Linked DNA regions of Homo sapiens: region 2 is linked to region 1. A link means that fine-mapping ties the variant in region 1 to the expression of a gene that starts in the linked region. Tissue or cell type: monocytes after Pam3CSK4. Region 1 holds a variant in brackets; the other region holds the start of a gene. All regions are shown on one strand. Distances are from middle to middle.

Evidence for each region. PIP is the estimated chance that this variant, and not a neighbour inherited with it, causes the effect.
Region 2: it holds the start of PREX1, and the variant in region 1 is fine-mapped to the expression of PREX1 in monocytes after Pam3CSK4 (Quach 2016, PIP 0.95).

The regions. Positions count from the first base shown.
Region 1 is chr20:48,752,534-48,761,875 of GRCh38, forward strand. The region is part of intron 1 of PREX1 (phosphatidylinositol-3,4,5-trisphosphate dependent Rac exchange factor 1); the gene reads right to left. Among named protein-coding and RNA genes, the nearest start is that of PREX1, 71 kb to the right of the region's middle. RefSeq lists enhancers at 5,493-6,487, 6,001-6,080, 8,868-8,917 and a silencer at 8,288-8,337. The variant G/A (reference allele first, on the strand shown) is at 4,440.
Region 2 is chr20:48,824,063-48,833,404 of GRCh38, forward strand. It overlaps PREX1 (phosphatidylinositol-3,4,5-trisphosphate dependent Rac exchange factor 1), which reads right to left and starts at 3,937. Exons shown (of 40, transcript NM_020820.4): 1 at 3,580-3,937. The coding sequence starts at 3,798. RefSeq lists an enhancer at 95-184 and silencers at 3,431-3,500, 3,911-4,590.

The DNA of each region.
Region 1 (9,342 bases):
AAGACTGCCTGGGAGCAGCCCTCAGTGATGGCCAGCAGGACCTGGCATGAAAAGACAGATGAGGAAACTGAGGCACTCGATGGACACTATCTCCCCGAGTGCCTTGATGGATTCAGCTCCGGTGGCCCCCATGGTAACCCGCTTGATGACACACCTTTCTTGGCTGCCTTCTCCTCCCTGCCTCACTCCCCCACTCTCCTATTGATGCTTCCTGGGGTGACCTCCCAAGTATGCTACTTGCCCTTGAATCAGTCTCGGGTCATGTTCTTTGGGGAATCCACAATAAGACAGACCTCAAGTTGTTCATTTCATTGCTTACTAGTCAAAATCACAGCATGAAGTAACCACTGCCATGCTGCAGACACTTGTTTCAAACATCCTTACTGTAAACAATGGCACTCAGGTGTAAGTTCTTTCAGCTGTATACTCTCGTCGACTGGGGTATGGGTATACAAGTTCCTCTAGGTGATGCACATGTTTCCTCGAGCCCAGGCGTTCAAGTTCCTCTAAATGTATATCCAGGTCTTCTGGGGCATAAGAGAAGGACCAGAGAGACTGTTTACTCAGCTCCCAGCCTGAGTGTTTCCAGGGTCCCCAGAGCTCTAGACTGAGCAGGAAGCCACATCATAATTGATTAGTGATGTCTGCCATGGATGTGGCAGGGAGAGGGTTAGAAGGATGATGAGTTTGCCATCTCCAACAAGCTCCCACTTAATGGAGATACCAAGAGTATGAGACACTGGTCTGAGGTCAAACAGCAAACTGGTGACAAAACACAGATTAGAACCAGGTCTCCCGATGCCAGGCCAGGTCTCACCTGTCGCCCTAACCTGAGCCCAGTGGTTCTCAACTTGGGGGTGATTTTACCCCCTAGAAGACATGTGCCAATGTCTAGAGACATTTTGGGTTGTCACAACTGAGGACAGGGGTGCTCCTGGCATCTAGTGTGTAGAGGCCAGGGATGCTGCGAAACACCCTACAGTGCACAGGACAACCCCACAAAGACACAGCTGACCGCAAACAACAGTGACAAGGTCAAGAAATCCTTGCCTCAGAAAAGGCTCTAATTAAAACCTAGAAAAAAATCCAACCTCTTCCACCGCCCAAATACTGTCTAATGCGGGCTCTTCTCACCCCACTGGCTCAGCTGCAGGTACACTGGTCTCCTTTTTGTTTCTTGAACACACCAGGCCCCCAGCATCCAGGCCTTCGCACGTGCTGTTCTTTGCCTACAGAGCTTTTCCCAAGACATTCAATTGGCAGGAGAGGTCCCTCCTCTCACAGGCCACCCCTGGACCCATATAAGAGAGGATCTCACCCACTACATAGCCACCTGAACCCTGTTACCCTTCACAGACGTCTCCGCTATTGGCTGTGCTCTTATCAATTAAGTATGGATAGGTTTGATCATTCAGTATCATCTCCCTCACTAAAGTATCAGCTCCCTCAGGGCAGAAGTCAATTTCCTTGGCCGTCTACGCAGCGCCTGGGACAGAGGCTGGCACACAGCAGGTGCTCAAGAGAGACTGGTATGTGGAGAAAGGATGGGAGAGACAGGGAGAAACTGAGAACAGGCTCCAGAAAGTAAGCTGATATCGAGCTGGGAGAGGCAACTAGAATAAGAACACCTTTTTAACTCACTAACTACACCTTTAGGCCTCATTATGTGCAGGTGCTGCTCTAGGTGTTTTAATCCTCAAACTCGAGGAGGCAGGCATTGTTATTACTATGTCCATTCTACAGAAGAGCCTAAGGCCCAGCGCAGTAAAGACCTTATTTAAAGCCACACGGCTGGCAAGTGAAGGAGCTGGGCCTTAAACCCAGACAGTCTCCATCACGCGCCATCAGTGAGTGACTGTGGACAATGAACCGCATCAGCCTTTAAAACAGGTAGCAGCTGCCCTTAGGGGTGCCCCTGGGGAGCTGCCATCTGCCTGGAACCCATGGCTGCTGTTGCCTGGGGAGGATAAATCTCTCCCTGGAGATAAAAAGGACAGAAAGAGGCCTTGAAGTCACTCCCTGAGACTGATGCCGGCAACCTGATCTGCTTGGGGAGGGGGCCCGACTGCCCCCAAGGACACCTCTGCCGTGGCTGGGGTGACCTCACCAGACATATGGTGAAACTTGAGAGGGCCAGGGTATGGGCTGGGAGCAAAGGGAAGCGATGAGTGGGGGTGGGTGGGGGGAGCTCCAGAACACAGCCAAGACAAAAGGGGGTGCCCTGAGGACCCCATCCCCAACATGATCTGGGTGGCGGGGAGTCGGAAGCACAGTGTCATGGAACAGCAAGGGCCTTGGAATCTGAGCGATGATAATAAAATCGCTATAACAGCAGAAGGGGGCTTACACAGCCTGCTGCAAGCCGCCCCACACAGCCCAGAGTCTGGGGAGCTCCCCAATTGCCCAATGACCCCTTCAAATGCCCAAATCCTATGCTCCATCCATCCAAGTTCTGGGTATTTATCCTACAGGGGAAAATAAATCTCATATGTGGCATGAAGCTTTACCTTCAATATCTGATTTATAATTCCATCACTGGGGGTTTAGTTAAATAAATTACCATCCAGCTCAACAAGGAATGATCATGCTAAAAATAGTTTGCAGAAGTCTATTTAATAACACGGAAAAGGACTGTTGATGTATCCTTAACTAGGAAAAAAAATCAAGTTACAAACAAGTACATAAAATATAATCTCACTGTTGGTTAAATAAATTCTCTCTCCCTAGGCATAGAAAAATGAAGTATGGAAGGAAATACCCATACTACAAGAAACTATGTAGGAATGTGGCCAAAATTACTAGCTGTCCCCCAATATCATTCTCTCCTTTTCCTTTAGAAACAGAACTCCAGATTTAAAAATAAGGACTGTATTTCCCAGCATCCCTTGCAGCTAGGTGTGGGCATGCAACTAAGTTCAGGTCAGTACAGCATACATGGCATATTATGTACAACATCTTGGAAGTATCCTTGTGGGTTGGGGGAGGAATGGGTAGGGATTCTCTTCTGCTATTCCCTTTTCCTACTGATTGGATTGCAAATGCGATGCCTGGAAGTGAAGCAGACATCTTATACCATGAGGTAGAAGCCACGTGTTGGGGAAAACAGAGCAGCATTCAGTAGGCACTTATGTTCCTAGTGATGGTACAGCCAACATATCCGCCCTGGGTCACCTATAATTACAGAATAAGGAAATAAACTTTCATCACATTTAAGACACTGTTATTTGGGTTTTATCACAAGCCACTGAACCTAATCCTAACTGACAGAGGGGCATTCTAAAGAATTTCCATTTTCTTCTTTCTTCATTTATTTCCCTTTCCAGATTTCTACAATGAACATGCTACTTTTTAAGCAAAAGTCATTTTTAACATAAATGCATGTTTTTATTTTTCTGGATGGGAGGGGTACTAAACACACAGGCTCTCTCTCGCCCACCCCATCACCTGCCCCAATCATCAGGACCCCTGGCTTCTGTCTTCTCCTCCTTGGATATGTGTATCCCTGTGCAGGGAAGGCAGTGCCCGCCAGTGGGGAACAGAGCAGCGGCAAGGCAAATATGAGATGGAAAGATTTACCTTCTGCAGAAGAGCCTCTGAGCTGCCGACCAGCCCTCCTTCTCTGAGTCAACTCTGGAAACCTGGGGACCCCCACAAGCTGGCCTGGAGCTTCCACAGCCTGGGCCAGAACACAAGAATGTCCACCACCCAGAGCCCACACCACTGCCCAGGCTGATTAAAACCCTCTCCACTCTGTTCCCACCTAGCATTCCTTCATCACGTCCATGCCAGGGGCCAGAAACAGAGAGCCACTGGCTCAGAACCAACTGAGGCTTTCCCAAAAGACCCAAATTTTGGATTTGAAACATCCTCCCCAAGGATTCCACCGCTGACTCATTCAGTCACAGACATACTCTGAGAGGACTGGGAAGAGATAGCTTTTTTTTTTTTACAAAGTCAGACTTACTACTCCTTTACTCCCATGGCACATTTACAAAGTCCATATATGTATCTATAACTCATTTCATTATATAGTCCACAGCACAAACATATTGCTTTGAATTGTATCTTTAACAGGCTAATTTCTTCCTGAAAGCATACAAAGAACCTACAACTGAGGCCTCCTGGGAATATACCAAGGCACCATCCACCCCGGGGCCTTTGTACTTGCTGTTCCCTTTGCCTGGAAGACTCTTTCTCCAGATATCTGCAGGGCCCCACCCTCAATTCATTCCTGTATTAGTCTGTTCTCACACTGCTAATAAAGATATACCAGAGACTGGGTAATTTATAAAGAGGTTTAATTGACTCACAGTTCCACATGGCTGAGGAGGCCTCACAATCAAGGCAGAAGGCAAATGAGAAGTAAAGTTATGTCTTACATGGCGGCAGGCAAGAGAGCTTGTGTAGGGGAACTCCCCTTTATAAAACCATCAGATCTC[G/A]TGAGACTTACTCACTATCACGAGAACGGCATGGGAAAGACCCGCCCCCATGATTCAATTACCTCCCACCAGGTCCCTCCCATGACACATGGGAATTATGGGAGCTACAATTCAAGGTGAGATTTGGGTGGGGACACAGCCAAACCATATCAATTCCCCTCTAGAATCAAATGCCAGTTCTTCTGAGGCCTTCCCCGACTGCTCCATTTGAAACAGACACCCATTCCCCTGCACACTGTATCTCATCCTCCTCCATCCCCCACAGCACTGCCCTCCACCTGCACTGAGCTGTTTCTTCACTTACAGTTCCTGTGTCCCCTACAAAGTCAGTCCCAGGAGGGTGGCAGCTTGTTTGGGCAGTGTCCACCCACTGGACCTAGAACCGTGCTGGACTGGACACAGAGCAGATGCCCAGTAACAAGGGGTTCAGCAGGTGACTGATGGTCAGCATGTTCGTCCTGCATAACAATCCCACAAGGTGGGCTACTGCATCCCCTTTTTAGGAAAGAGGAAAACAGGGCATGAATCACACATTAGGCTCTGGAGTCGGCCAAGCCTCGCACCTCAGTTGCCTCATCTATAAAATCTGTGTAATGGAGCCTCACCTTGCAAGTCGCTGACATGAGGATTAAATCTGACACTGCTTGTAAATAACTTGTTGCCTCTGCCCACGGTGGGAGCCCCCGGCCCCCAGGATCCAGCCAGGATCACAGGAGGTGCCCAATAAGTCCTCAGTAAATGTCCAGTGAAGGGGTGGGCACTTTCAATTCCGTGTAGCCCCTGGACCAGCTCAGACCAGGCCCCTTCCCTGGGCACATTTCCTTGGCACCATTCCTTGGACCTATAGAAATGTTGGAGGCCTTTAAAAATACGTGCATTGGCTCCAAATACAAAAGGAAAACTGCATTGTCAAAAAGAATAAATCTTGATTTAAATGTCTACAAAATTACCAATCAACTCTGCCTGTGGCTATGTGCACAGAGAATGCAGGGAGTGTGTGCTGTGGGTGCATCTTAGCGGGTGTACCATGACAGGACCCTTGGGGTGGTTCCCCAGATGCAGCAGACCCTGAGGCAAGAAGTGGAGTACAAGTAGTTTCTTTGGGAGGTGGGAGGTGGGAGATGGTCCCTGGAAACACCAACAGGGAGGTGGAACCAAGAAGGGAAGGCAGCCCACGAAGGGTATGAGACCAAGCAAGTTACCACCATGAGGCCCCAGACAGACCGTGTGGAACGCACACCTCACAGCCACCCTCAGGGAGTGAGGAGGCCAGGGAGTCTGTACATCAGCCCTGTCTGTCACTAGTTTAAGGGCAGTGGGGGTGATCCTGGCACTCCCCATCTTCCCTGAAAGTGACAGAGCAGCTCAGAGCAGACAAAGCCATCAGGCAGAGGAGCGCAGGTGCTGGCAGTGGAGCGTCCCTCTGGTGTGCCCTGGAGTGGTTGAGGTGTCGCAATGCAGCCTCAAAAAGAAAGAGGGTGTAGGGCCCCCCCGAGCTTGGGGGGGTGAAAGACAGGGCTTTGCAGCACCGCAGCCACACAGGCCAGGCACTTCAGCAGATGTTCTCCTAATACACACCAGGACGGCCTCGCTGCCTGTTAAAACACCAAAATACTTCTGAGCTGATGGGGAAAATCTCTACATGTGCAGGGCTGAAGGTCAGAGGAGGTGGCTGCGGAACCACAGGCAGTCCCCGGTCAGACGTGGAGGCAGGTTTCACGTGGAGCAGACACAGGGAGCAAACAGCATTGCGTGTATCTGAGGATACAGCATCACGGGCAGGGTCAACAGCTGGGGCAAAGGCCCCAAGGCACATTCAGTCTTTCCAAGACAATCCTATCGAAAACGCCTATCCCTGCTCTGTTTTCCTCACAGCACCTGTCACCATGGACATTATGTGTGTTCATTATCAGTCTATTATCCATCTAGCCCACCTGAATCCAGGCTGCATCTGCGGGGAACCCATACACATTCCCCTGCGGAGGCCAAAGATATGGCCAGCATTCCACCTCCTCCTCCCATGCCCCAACTCTCAGAAGCCCTCCCTACCCTTAGAAACTCTCTCTACTCCTTGCTAGAAGGGCACTGTATCTCCTAAGCAAGCAGTATGTAAGAGTGGATGAGGCTCAAAGGCTAGAACTAGCCACCTGGTTCAAATCCTGCCCCTGCCACCTACTGCTCTGTGACCTAGGCAACTGACTCCATCTCTCTGGGCCTCATCTATAACATGGATGGGGACCATAAAACTACTGACTTCATGGGCTATTGTGAGGCTGATATGAAATACTGCAGGCAGGCCAGGCGCGGTAGCTCACGCCTATAATACCAGCACTTTGGGAGGCTGAGATGGGTGGATCACCTGAGGTCAGGAGTTCGCGACCAGCCTGACCAACATAGTGAAACCCTGTCTCTACAAAAAATACAAAAATTAGCCAGCCATGGTGGCTCACATCTGTAATCCCAGCTACTTGCGAGGCTAAGACAGGAGAATCATTTGAACCTGGGAAGCAGAGGTTACAATGAACTGAAATCGCACCACTGCACTCCAGCCTGGGTAACAGAGCAAGATTCCATCTCAAAAAAAAAAAAAAAAAAAGAAAAGAAAGAAAAAAAGAAATACTACAGGCAAAGCATTTAAATGGGCTCAAATCCCAGCTCTGCTGCTTACAAGCTCTAAGACCTGAAGTAAATTATTTATTCTCTCTGCCTCCATTTCCTCCTCTATAACGGGGGATAAAATGAGTACACAGGATTACAATGAGAATTACAGAAGCTAACACACATAACAAGCACTTGAATGGTCCCTGGTGCATAGCAGGTGCTCAAAAAACATTAGCTATTATTGGCCAGGCTCACACCTGTGAGCTCACACCTGTAATCCTAACACTGTGGGAGGCCGAGGCAGGCTGATTGCTTGAACCCAGGAGTTCGAGCAATCAATCAATACGGCAAAACCTCATCTCTACCAAAAATACAAACAAACAAACAAAATAGCCAGGTGTGGTGGCGCACACCTGTAGTCCCAGCTACTCGAGAGGCTGAGGTGAGAGCATCACTTCAGCCTAGGAGGCAGAGGTTGCAGTGAGCCAAGATCGCACCACTGCACTTCAGCCTGGATGACAAAGCAAGACCCTGCCTCAAAAAAAAAAAAGCATTGGCTATTATGATCTCCCCATCTTGAGTTTCTAGAGTGTCTGCAGGGAGTCCAAGCCCTGGTGCAGGTAGACAGAACCCACTGTGCTTCCTAAGGAAACCTGGATTTGGATCAACCACATCTGTAGGGCTTCTACATGCACCAAGCACACTCACATTTATCCCACACTATTTTTACTTATTTTTATTAGTTTTTTCCATCCTGCAAATAGCTCTATTATTATAGACTGCCTGCTTCCGAGTCTCCTGAGGTGAGATGAGAAGGGGAAGGCTTTATAAACTGCAGAGCCCCCCACATCCTCATCACCACCAGCGCACCCCTCTGCCCTGCCCCATCCTCCTTGCTGACTGCCAACCACGTGACTTCAGCAAGTCACCACACTTCTGAGTCAATTTCCTGGACCAAACAAAAAGGGGGGGAGGAGTAGTTGTTGAGGTTTAAGTGAAATGATGCAGGTGAACACTTTGTAACTACAAACACTTCCTGGAAAAAGTGGCAGAAAGGCTGAGCCAGGAGAGGGAGGCTGGACTAGGAAAGGGGCAGGAAGTTGCTTGTGATGATATTCTAGGGGGACAAGTCCTCTCCGAGTACCAACCATCCCAGCAAGTGTTAACCAGGGCCTGCCGTGCACCAGGCACCGAGCTGGGTGCTGGAGACACAGATATAAGCCATGACCCTGCCACGGAAGGACTTATGCATTCTTACATTCGCCTGTGTAGTCAGCAAATACTTACTGCACACCTATTATGTGCCAGGCACTGCGCTAAGAGCCAATGACACATCAGTGAATGAACAAATCAGACTAACTCCCCACCTTCACAAAGTAGTGGCAGAGACAGACTATACACTGATTTTAAAATAAAATGGCAGGTAGGAATGATTGCTACAAAGAAAACTAAAGCAGGGTAAGAAAACAGAGAAGGATAAGGTGGGAATGCCATTTCAAGGAGCTGTTCAGAGAAAGCCGTTCTGAGAAGATGGCATTTGAGCAGACACAGGGAGCAAACAGCATTGCGTGTATCGGAGGACACAGCATCATGGGCAGGGTCAACAGCCGGGGCAAAGGCCCCGAGGCACATTCAGTCTTTCCAGGACAATCCTATCGAAAACGTCTATCCCTGCTCTGTTTTCCTCACAGCACCTGTCACCATGGACATTATGTGTGTTTATATCAGTCTATTATCCATCTAGCCCACTTGAGTCTCACCTCCAGGAAGGCAAGGATGTTTGTCTGTCTAGGTCACTGTGGTGTCCCAGAGCCTAGGATTGGACCCAGCACACAGCAGACCCTCGAAAAGGATGTGTTTAATTAATTAGTCAATCAATCATCTAGAGTAGACTACTCCCACCCCCACCCAGATTCTAGGCCCTGGTAAAAGGTGCCCAGTTCTCACCCCACCCCGCCCCGTTCCCCACCACATCGGGAGAGGAAGTTGATGCAAAAAACAAGTTGCAACAACCTGTCATGAAGAGGTCTGATGCAACAGTGGGGGAAGGCAGTGGGGGACACTGAGAGGAACCCAATGCTTTTCTTCACGCAGCCCCCATCAAGGGGCTGGGGCCTGGCCTACAAACTTTCCTGAGTTCACCAACAACCCATCCTTCCTTCAACAGATATTTATGCAGAGCCTCCTCTACATGATGGGGCTACCTTATGGGTCTCAAACTGGTAACTCAGAGGCATCATTCCTTTGGCCTGCAGAGGGGTTTGAGAAACTTGGGCCTAAGTTTGAATATCAGGTTTCCCAT
Region 2 (9,342 bases), 72 kb after region 1:
GCTGCCCAGAGCACACGGGGAGTACCCCACATAGCCAGGGCCTCGAAATGATTCGAGCCAAGGTTCTGAGTCAAAACCCCAGGCACTGTTTCCCCCAAGACCGATCCAGCATCTCTGTGAAAGGGCTGTCCTTGCCTTTTCATGATTATTTAATAAACACACGCAAAACACCAAACTCAGAGGACTCCCTGGAGATGAGGGAGGGAGTGCAACCCAGTTCCTGAAGGAGATGGGGAAAGATGGGAAGATTCTCAAGGAACCACAAAGCCCTCGGCCTGGAACCAAACAAAACCACTGGTTCCTGTGGCCGGAGTTTAGGGTGTCAAAAGGAAACTCACTCAGAGCCCCCATCCTCCTCTCAGTGCTGACTTAACTCAGACCTCACTTCCTCCAGGAAGCCCTCTCTGATCACCCCTGCTCTCTGGATGCTGAAGTCCCACAACCCTAATTATCTGTATTATTTAATTTTCCTACAACAACAATAATAACCAATATTTATATACCTTACTGCCAGACACTGTTCTAAGTGCTTTACATCAATTTCTATAACTCACTTATCTTCTTTAAAAACCTATAAAATAGGACCTATTAACATCCCTCTTTTTACAAATAAGGCTCAAACAGGTTAAGGTGTTTGCCCAAGGTCACAAGTCCAAGGATTTAACCTCAAGCAGTCTGGCTCCAGAGCCTTGCACTTGGATTGTTTTTTTTAAACACCCATTTGGCCATCCTCCACTACACCGTCCTCTCCTTGAGGACAGAAGCCACACATGGCCCCTATCACGGGGGTTACTTTCCACGGTTTCCATGGGCCGATGGGACCTTCACACCAAGGACACACGGAGACCAGGGTGGTCCTTTAAGGCCTGCCTCTAACCACATGGAAATAAAAGCAGGGAGGGATTACCGTGCATTCTTCCAAGCCAGGAGACAGCAGGGAAAATCCCTTAGCAAATATAAAGGCTGAGAAGAGAGAGTGGGAAGACAGAAGAGAATCACAACCTGAGGCTGCCAGCCTTGCAACCATGGAAAGCCTTGGTAATTAGCAGTTCCTGAAGCTCTAAGCCCCAGGTTAGTTTTGAAAACGAAAATGCCTTGGGATGTTTAGGGGCCATTCCTGACGGGCCAAGATGAGAGAGGACTCCTGTGGCTCACAAACAACGTATGGCTGGTCAGGTTACACAATCCGTCTGTTTCTGGCACCAGCTTGGGGACACACAAAAGGCCCAGGCAGAAAGGAAGCCCGGATTCCCCGCTCCTTGTTTCACAGGTGGGGAAACTGAGGTCAGGACACGTAGCATGATTGGTCCAAGACACATGTCCAAGTCAGAACCAATTCATCTCAGAACTGACACATCAGATACAAAAAGAAAAATGTGATGAAGTCAGCAAATGTAAAGTGTTAAGGAGATAATGTGAAAGTAGAGAAATCTTTTTTTTTCCTGTTTCTTGAATAATAAGAATGGTTGGCTCCAATCAATTTCCATTATTCCAGCTTCCTCCTACTCTACACGTGGACGATTTAAAACCACAGTTAACTCAAACACAATCTAGATCTGTTCTAAAATGAAACACACCATCTAGGGCAGGGGCGTGGGAGGGAGAGGTATATTTTCTTTCCCATTAATATCAAAATTGGTTTGTATTTCCTGTTTCTCTTCCAAGCAGAGGAGCATGGAGTGGCTCAGAAGGAGAAGTCAGGAGTTCCCTAGAATTTGACATTGCTCAGAGACACCAGGGTTGTCTACATGTTTAATTCAAAAACTGCCAGCTTCTAACAGAACAAATTCTTCCCCCACCCCCCACCCCCGAAACTGTGAGAGAAGAAGGGATGGGAAAGAAAGCCAATCCTGCCTTATTCTTACAGGCCTTCCTAGAAGGGTCCTTTAGCCAAATGGTTTTCAATGCTTCTGCACAACCCCCTCTCCCACATCCCCCTGCCCCCAGTACATCTCCTTTCACAGGCAGAAGGGCTCTAGTCTAAGGCTGTCTCCTCCCTGAGCTGGAACTCTGATCTCACACAGCCTCAGCTGCACCCCTAAGCCATGAGGAGCCCCAGAGGACCCCAGAGTCTCCCTCTTTCTCCCAAAGACTAGGAGCTACAAAGCCTGGCTCTAGGGTCTTTGAAAGAGCCACCCCCACACCAGCCCTTCCTGAACCAGGATTAAAAGACTTCCTAGAGCAGAGAAGGGGAGTAAATGAGGCCCCAGCAGGAGGCATGGAGATTAAAGACTTTAGAGTCTCCTAACTTCCATCCAAGGCTCTGCCCCGTCCCACCCCCTCCACCCGCTGGCCACTTTTCTCACTTCCTAGGAGAGTAGGGAAGTGGCCCCTTCCTCCCTCTCACAGAAAAAAAGCAAAAGAAAAATGCAGCATAGAATAGGGGTTTAGAACACCAGCTGGGATAGTCCCGGTTCAAAGCCCAGTACCCCCACTTAATCAGCTGTGCGATCCCAGACAAGCTACCCGGCCCCTCTGGAGCTAAACTTTCCCAATCTTAAAAACGGAGGAGGCAGGACCCAGTAGCTCACGCCTGTAATCCCTGCACTTTGGAGGCCGAGGTCGGCGGATCACTTGAGGCCAGGAGTCCAAGACCAGCATGGCCAACATGGTGAAATCCCCTCTCTGATAAAAATACAAAAATTAGTCGGCCGTGGTGGCTGGCGCGTGCCTGTAATCCCAGCTACTCGGGAGGCTGAGGCAAGAGAATTGCTTGAACCCGGGAGGCGGAGGTTGCAGTGAACCGAGATTGCGCCACTGTACTCCAGCCTGGGTGACTGAGGGAGACTCCGTCTCAAAAAAAAATTTTTTTAATTAAAAATGGGGGAAATACTCGTCCCTACTTCATAGACCGCCTGTGAAGGTTAAACCTGCTAATTAATGACACATGTAAGGTGTCTGGCACATAGTAAGTGGTCGGTTGTTATTTTACAAAGTCTGAGGCCGTGGTTTTGCACTTGGAGATGGGGAGTTGGTGGGGGTGGATGCAGTTAGGGAGCCTGGACTGCCGAGTTTTGAGTTCGAAACCCACTCTCCCCGAACTCCAGCAAAAACCTGTGCATGGGGGATTCTACCCTGGGGTTCTGTCAATCCCCGCCCCTCCTCTGAGCTTCAGGTTTTATCCTACTCCATCAACGCGCAGGGACGTTGGGCTCTGGGGCTCCTACGGTATGTCCTAGATGAGTGGTGCACCGGGCGCGTAGTTATTCCTGGGAAAAAGACGCAGGAGCGCCAGCTCCCGGCGCCGCCGGGGTCCCCAAGCCCCTGCATCGCGGATGTAACTAATTTTAAAACTATTTGAAAGGCGGGGACGGGGAAGAAAAGACAAAAGGGCAGCGCGCGCCGCGGGGAAGTGGAGTGCGGGAGAGCCCCGGTCGGAGCAGGACCGTGCGCCGGCCAGGGAGGGAGGCGACGCGACAGCTCTGGAGGAGCTCGGATCCCCCCCGCTTTCCGCGCGCCCTGCGGGGCGCCCCCGAGGCAATTCTCCACCCACGGGGACCACGGCCACAGGTTGTGGGGACCGCAGCGGGGCGAGCGGCTGGAGGGAAAGCTGTCCCCAAGCTCCCGAGCGACACTCACCGACTGCAAGAAGCGCAAGGTGCCCACGTAGTCCCTCTCGGTGCCCAAGATCTCGTTGAGGACGCAGAGGCGGAGGCGCAGCTGGCGCTCGGACTCCCGGGCGGCCGCGCACGGGCCGGGGCCGGAGCTGGGCGCCGCGGCGCCAGGGGCCCGGGGGTCCGGGTGGGCGCAGTCCCCGGCCCCGTCGCCGCCGGGCTCGCTGCCGCTGGGCGCCTCCATTCTAGCGCGGCCGCGCGGCGCCGGCTCCTTCCGTCGCGCCGAGCGGCAACTCAGGCGTCCAGGCGCCCCATCCCGGACGGGGCGCGCCGGCGGGCCGGGCTCAGCGGCGGGCCGGGCTCCCGGCGCGGCGGGCGGGACTGGGGGCCGGGCGGCTGGGCCGGGGGCGGAGGCAGCGCGCGGGGGCCGGGCGAGGGGCGGGAGGGGGCGGCCCTCGGGGCTCCCAGACGGCTGGCCCCCCGCCCCCGCGCCAGGGACCGTCTGCCAAGTGCCACGCCGCGCTCGGCCGCAGAGGCGCTCTGCGCGTGCACGGGGCCCCTGGGGACGCGGCGCGGCGCTCGGCGCCTCCGTCGGAAGCTCGGGGGTCGGGCGGGAGCCTCCGGAAGGGCCCCGCGGAGCCGGGAGTCCGAGGCCGCGCGCACGCCGAACCGAGCGTACCAACTCCGCGCCCGGACGCGTGGCGCCCCCCCAACCCGCAGTCACCGCGGGCTACGCCACTCCCACCCGGCACACGCGACACCCGCCGCGCGCAGGCTCCTGCTTGCAGGTCCGGCCGCTGCTCGGGCCAAGTAAACACCGGGCTGGGAAAGCTCGCTGCGGAGCCGCTCGGGGGCAAGCCAGCCCCGCCACGCGCGCCTCCGCGGCCCCGGGAAGTCAGGGGCGACCGCTGCCTGGGCAGTGACGGCCCCTCTCTGGGCAGTGACGGCCCCTCCCGGGAACGCCGGGCCCTCGCGGTGCCCTCGGTGCTACCACGACCTTGGGAAGGAACATGCGTGGCGCGCGCTCGCTCTCACTTTTCTCTTTCCCGTTTCCTTTCCCATCTCTCTCTTTCCTTCCTTCCTTTTCTTTCTGAACTTCTTTGCCCCCTGACCCTGCCCTTTCCACCTTTCCCAGAAGAAATTATTACCTGCTCTTGAGTTATTGATCAAGTGGCAGGTACCCTGCCTGCTCCCCCTTCCATCCACCCACCCCATGGGATAAGGCCTTGGGAAACCCAGCTTCTTGTCAGGTTGCTCTGGGCAATGTTGATCATCACCCGCCTTATCGGAAGGTATGGAGAGGGGAGGAAGTTCTGGGGCCTAGAGTCAGCTGCTCAGGTTCAAATCCTAGCTCCCCACTTGCTGGCCGGGTGGCCTTGGGCTGGTTTCCTTGCTTCAAGATCCTCAGTGTTTTCATCAGTATAACGGGAACGATCATGGTACCTAGCTCCAAGGTCCTCCCCGGGGTTCCATGGGAAGTACTTAGCACCTAGAAAGTTCTCTGTAAATGTTTGTTCTTACTATTATTGCATGTGTGAAGCCCAACACCTAGAAAGTTCTCTGTAAATGTTTGTTCTTACTATTATTGCATGTGTGAACGGCCCTCTAAGCCTGGCCCCACTCTCAAATGGCCCATACAATCCCTAATCACCCGTGTTTCCGGACCAGAGATTGTATCGTCTCTGCAGGGGATAAAGTGATCCACATAGTATCCGCCTCTAGACTGTAGTCATTTTATGGACAGAAACATTGCTTATTTATTCCTGTTCCAAAAGCCTAGGATTTTCCTCCCATTGGCCTCTCAATACTGTAAGTGCCTAAGGACACAGGGAGAGAATGGGGTGGCTTCTGCCCTCTCTGACTTCTTTCTTTGGGATCATGGGCAAGGTAGCATTTGATCTGGGCCTTGGGCTGAGTGAAGTTCCCCTGGGCAGGGAGTAAAGGACATGAGATAGGTGAGCCTGTCACGCTTGGGTAGTGGAGTCAATTGTGTCCAAAGGTAGCTGGTTTTTTATTTATATTTTTATTCCTAATAAAGGCCTCTGGAGTATCTCTGCTTTGTGACTTTAAACTGTTCACGGTACCTTTCTGAGCCTCCGTTTCCTCATCTTTAAATTAATTCTGTCTACCACGAGGGGAGAACATGGCTGGAACATAATGGACCATGGAATGAAGCGGGCTTGCATTTGTATCCCAGTCCAAATCCAACTGGCAGGGTAACCTTGGCCAAGACACGTTATTTCTCTGGGCCTCAGTCGTCTAATCTGTAAAAGGGGAGTCTTTGTGAGAGCGAATTCTATGCAATACAGACTTTCTCAACCTTGGGACTATTGACATTTGGAGTCACATAACTCTTTGTTGGGGGAGGGGCGTGTCCTGTGCATTTCAGGACATTTAGCCGCGTCCCCTACCCACTAGATGCCAGTAGCACTCCCTCCCCAATCTGAGAATCAAAAATGTCTCCAGGCTGGGCACAGTGGCTCCGGCCTCTAATCCCAGAATTTTAGGAGGTCCAAGTGGGAGGATTGTTTGATCCCAGAAGTTCAAGACCAGCCTGGGCAACATAGCAAGACCCTGTCTCTACAAAAAAATTTTAAAAATTAGCTGGGCATGGTGGCACACACCTGTAGTACCAGCTGCTGGGCTGAGGTGGGGAGCTTGCTTGAGCCCAGGAGGTCAGGGCTGCAAGTAAGCTGTGATCACACCACTGCACTCCAACCTGGACAACAGAGTAAGCCTTGCCTCAAAAATAAACAGAAAAAGTGTCTCCAGACATTGCCAGATATCCCTGGGGACAGAATTGCCCCCTGTTGAGAACCACTGATGTAAAGTACCTGACACACATAGCTGGCACAGAGTAGGTGCTCAACAAATGTTAGTTCCCTTCTCAGCCCATGACCAAGGAAGGTTAGCCTCAAGTTTACACACAAATCCCACATTTCACCCAAGAATTGGCCCACACTGCCAAAAAACATTTCCACGTTGTGGATGGGTCCCATCTCTGGCCCACCCCAATGTTTTATACATCGTTACTTCCTCAGATTCTGCTGGGATCTTTTTCCCCTTCCATCCCCATCCCCAGTGGTAATGATGACACTAAAAGATAATACAGCGTTTAGTAACATACTTAAGCTCTCTGTGCCTTGCTTTCCTCATCTGTGAACTAAGAATAATATCAGTACCTACATCATAAAGTCGTTGCAAGGTTCCTGAGTGCATACATGGAGGGTGCTTAGAGCACACAGTAGGTGCTCAATAAGTGAAGTCTTTTACAATGCGTGGATTGAGTGCTGAATCTAATAGGATGCATTTGGCTGCAAGGAGAAGAAAACTGGGCTATTGATAGCTTAAAGCATAAGGACATTATTTAGCAAGAGGTCCAGAGGCAGTTGGTTCCTGAGGCTGGTGTAGGACTTCATGATGTCATCAAGGATCATGGCACCTTTGACCCTCCTATCCTCAGCATGGTGGCTTTTCCTCCCAAGCTTTAGGGCCTCAGAGGCACAAAATGGCTGCTGAAACAGCAACATTGCCTCCTCACACACCTCCAATGAAGGAAAGAAAAGTACGAAGAAGACTCTGTCTCCTCTGTGCTTCTCTCTTTGGGGGAATAAACTTAAGCTCCCAGCAGGTCAGCACTAGAAGCCATGGTCACCCTTGAAAAGTCCCTGACCGAGGGCATAGATTGCCACCATCAACTTAGAAAAGACCTGCTTAGTCCCCTGGCACAAGGCTGCCCAGACAACTTGGAGATCTGTTGTCAAGAGAGAAGAGGAGCTAGCATGGTGGGCATCTATAAGTGTCGGCCACAAGCATCTACTACACACTGGGCATTGGGCGGGGTCCTGAGGCTGCAGCACTGAGCACCCCAACAGCTGAGGCCCTTGTGCTGCCGGCATTATTCCAGCAAGGGGGATAGGTGAGGATGAAGACAAGTTCCTCCTCTCATGCATTCAACTATTATATACTGAGGGCCTCCTATGCTCCAGGCAGGGATACAGCAGTGAACAGAACAGATAAGGTCCCTGGCTTCCTGGTGTGTCCAGTCAAGAGCAGGGAGAGAAGGACAATAAATAAACAAGGTCCTTTCAGCTTCTCTAAGGCCTGCAAGGGATGGGCCTGGGGAAGCACCATTGGTTGGTGGCACCTCCAGGACTCTGCCTCAGGTCACTACCCCAGTGTCATGATTCAGCCATCAGGATTCAGCCAGGGGCCTCAGCCTTGGCGGGATCAGTGGGGACTCCCTCTCTTCAAAACCTGGCTGCCTCCCAGCTAATCCTGGCATAGGCAACTCCCTAAACCAAACATGACTAAGCAGTCAGGCTGGAGTAGATCTCTTCCTATCCCCATTTCAACTTTGACCTCTATTCCCTTCTTCCCCATCACCCGTCCGGAATATCTAGTGGGGAGCCTATCTGTCTCATGTGTATGTCAGGGCAGGGCCTGAAACAGCCGGCAGCTGGGTAACGTTCTCAAAAAGAACAGGGAGGAAGAAGAAAAAAAAAAAATTGCAGTTCAGGGGGAAGAAAAAAAAAGTGATGATAATGATAGGGAAATTCTCTTTTGCAGGGACAATTTTAGAGTTTCCGTTGCCATGTACTTTGCAAATAGTGGGAAATACCATTTCGTTTCTGTTACATAAGTTTCACAGTTGAGGGGGAGAAGATTCTGCTGCTTGGAAACATCAGAGTTTCTTATTCCCTGACAAGCCCCTGTCAGCTTCTGCAGGCTGAGGATTTGAAGGCCCCCTTCCCAAGCTCTGTTTAAAAGGAAAACTAATTAAGTTAAAGCAAGGAAAAACAAGTGATTTTCTTTCCCATCCCAAGTTGAATGAGCCAATTGAGAAGTGAGTTACTGCACTGCCCGAGGGTGCCATCATTTCCCAAATGCAAATGAGTTCTCAAAAGTCAGACCAGCAGCCCAGAGCAGGGCTGTTCCTCATTCTGAGAACCAAGAGCAGCTGTCTGAGAAGAAGAGGGAGGCCTCTCCACCCTTGGAATTAGAGCAGCTGGACAACTCAAATCAACGCTGGACACACAGCCCAGGGTTCACTTCTTCCCACCAAAATATAATCGTCTTCCTAGTAGTTGAGCTACCCCCAGCTGCCCAAGTCAAAACGTCTCTAAGGGAAGCCTTGCTGTTGGAAGCACATTCTCCAGGGGGCTCTGGTTCAAGGTCTGATTTAAGCATAATAGGTATCCAATTAAGTCAGGGCTCCACAGCTTTGCCAAATCATACTTTTGCCAGGAGGCATTGGAGACACTGCTTTGAGGAAGCAGAAAGGAAAACATCTAGGACCCTCAGTTCCAATCCCACTCTGCCACCAACATGCACGACTTCTTCTCCAGCCTTTGGACATTGTTGTAGCACCAGAGACCAGCTTCTCAGCTTCAAATCCCAGTCCCACTGCTTCCTAATTGTGTCACTTTGTGTAAGTGACTTAACCTCTCTGGGCTTCAATATCCATATCTGTAAAATGGGGTCAGTAAGAGCTTCTACCTCACAGCGTTGTTGTGCAGGTTAAAATATTTAATAGATCCAAAGTGCATAGTATGCTGCCCGATCCTTGGATGGGTGTTTGCTATTGTAAGTGGATGAAGCCATGATGTCTGGAGCTATGACAGCCATCTTGAGACCCTGAGATAGGACACTTCTAACTAACTGAAGGTGCAAAATGACAGATGGAAAGAATCTGGATCTTTGATGTCACTGAGATCCTGAATTAACCAACCATGGAACCACCCTGCCTCTAGACTTCTTGTATTAAAAGATAATAAAATGTATAACA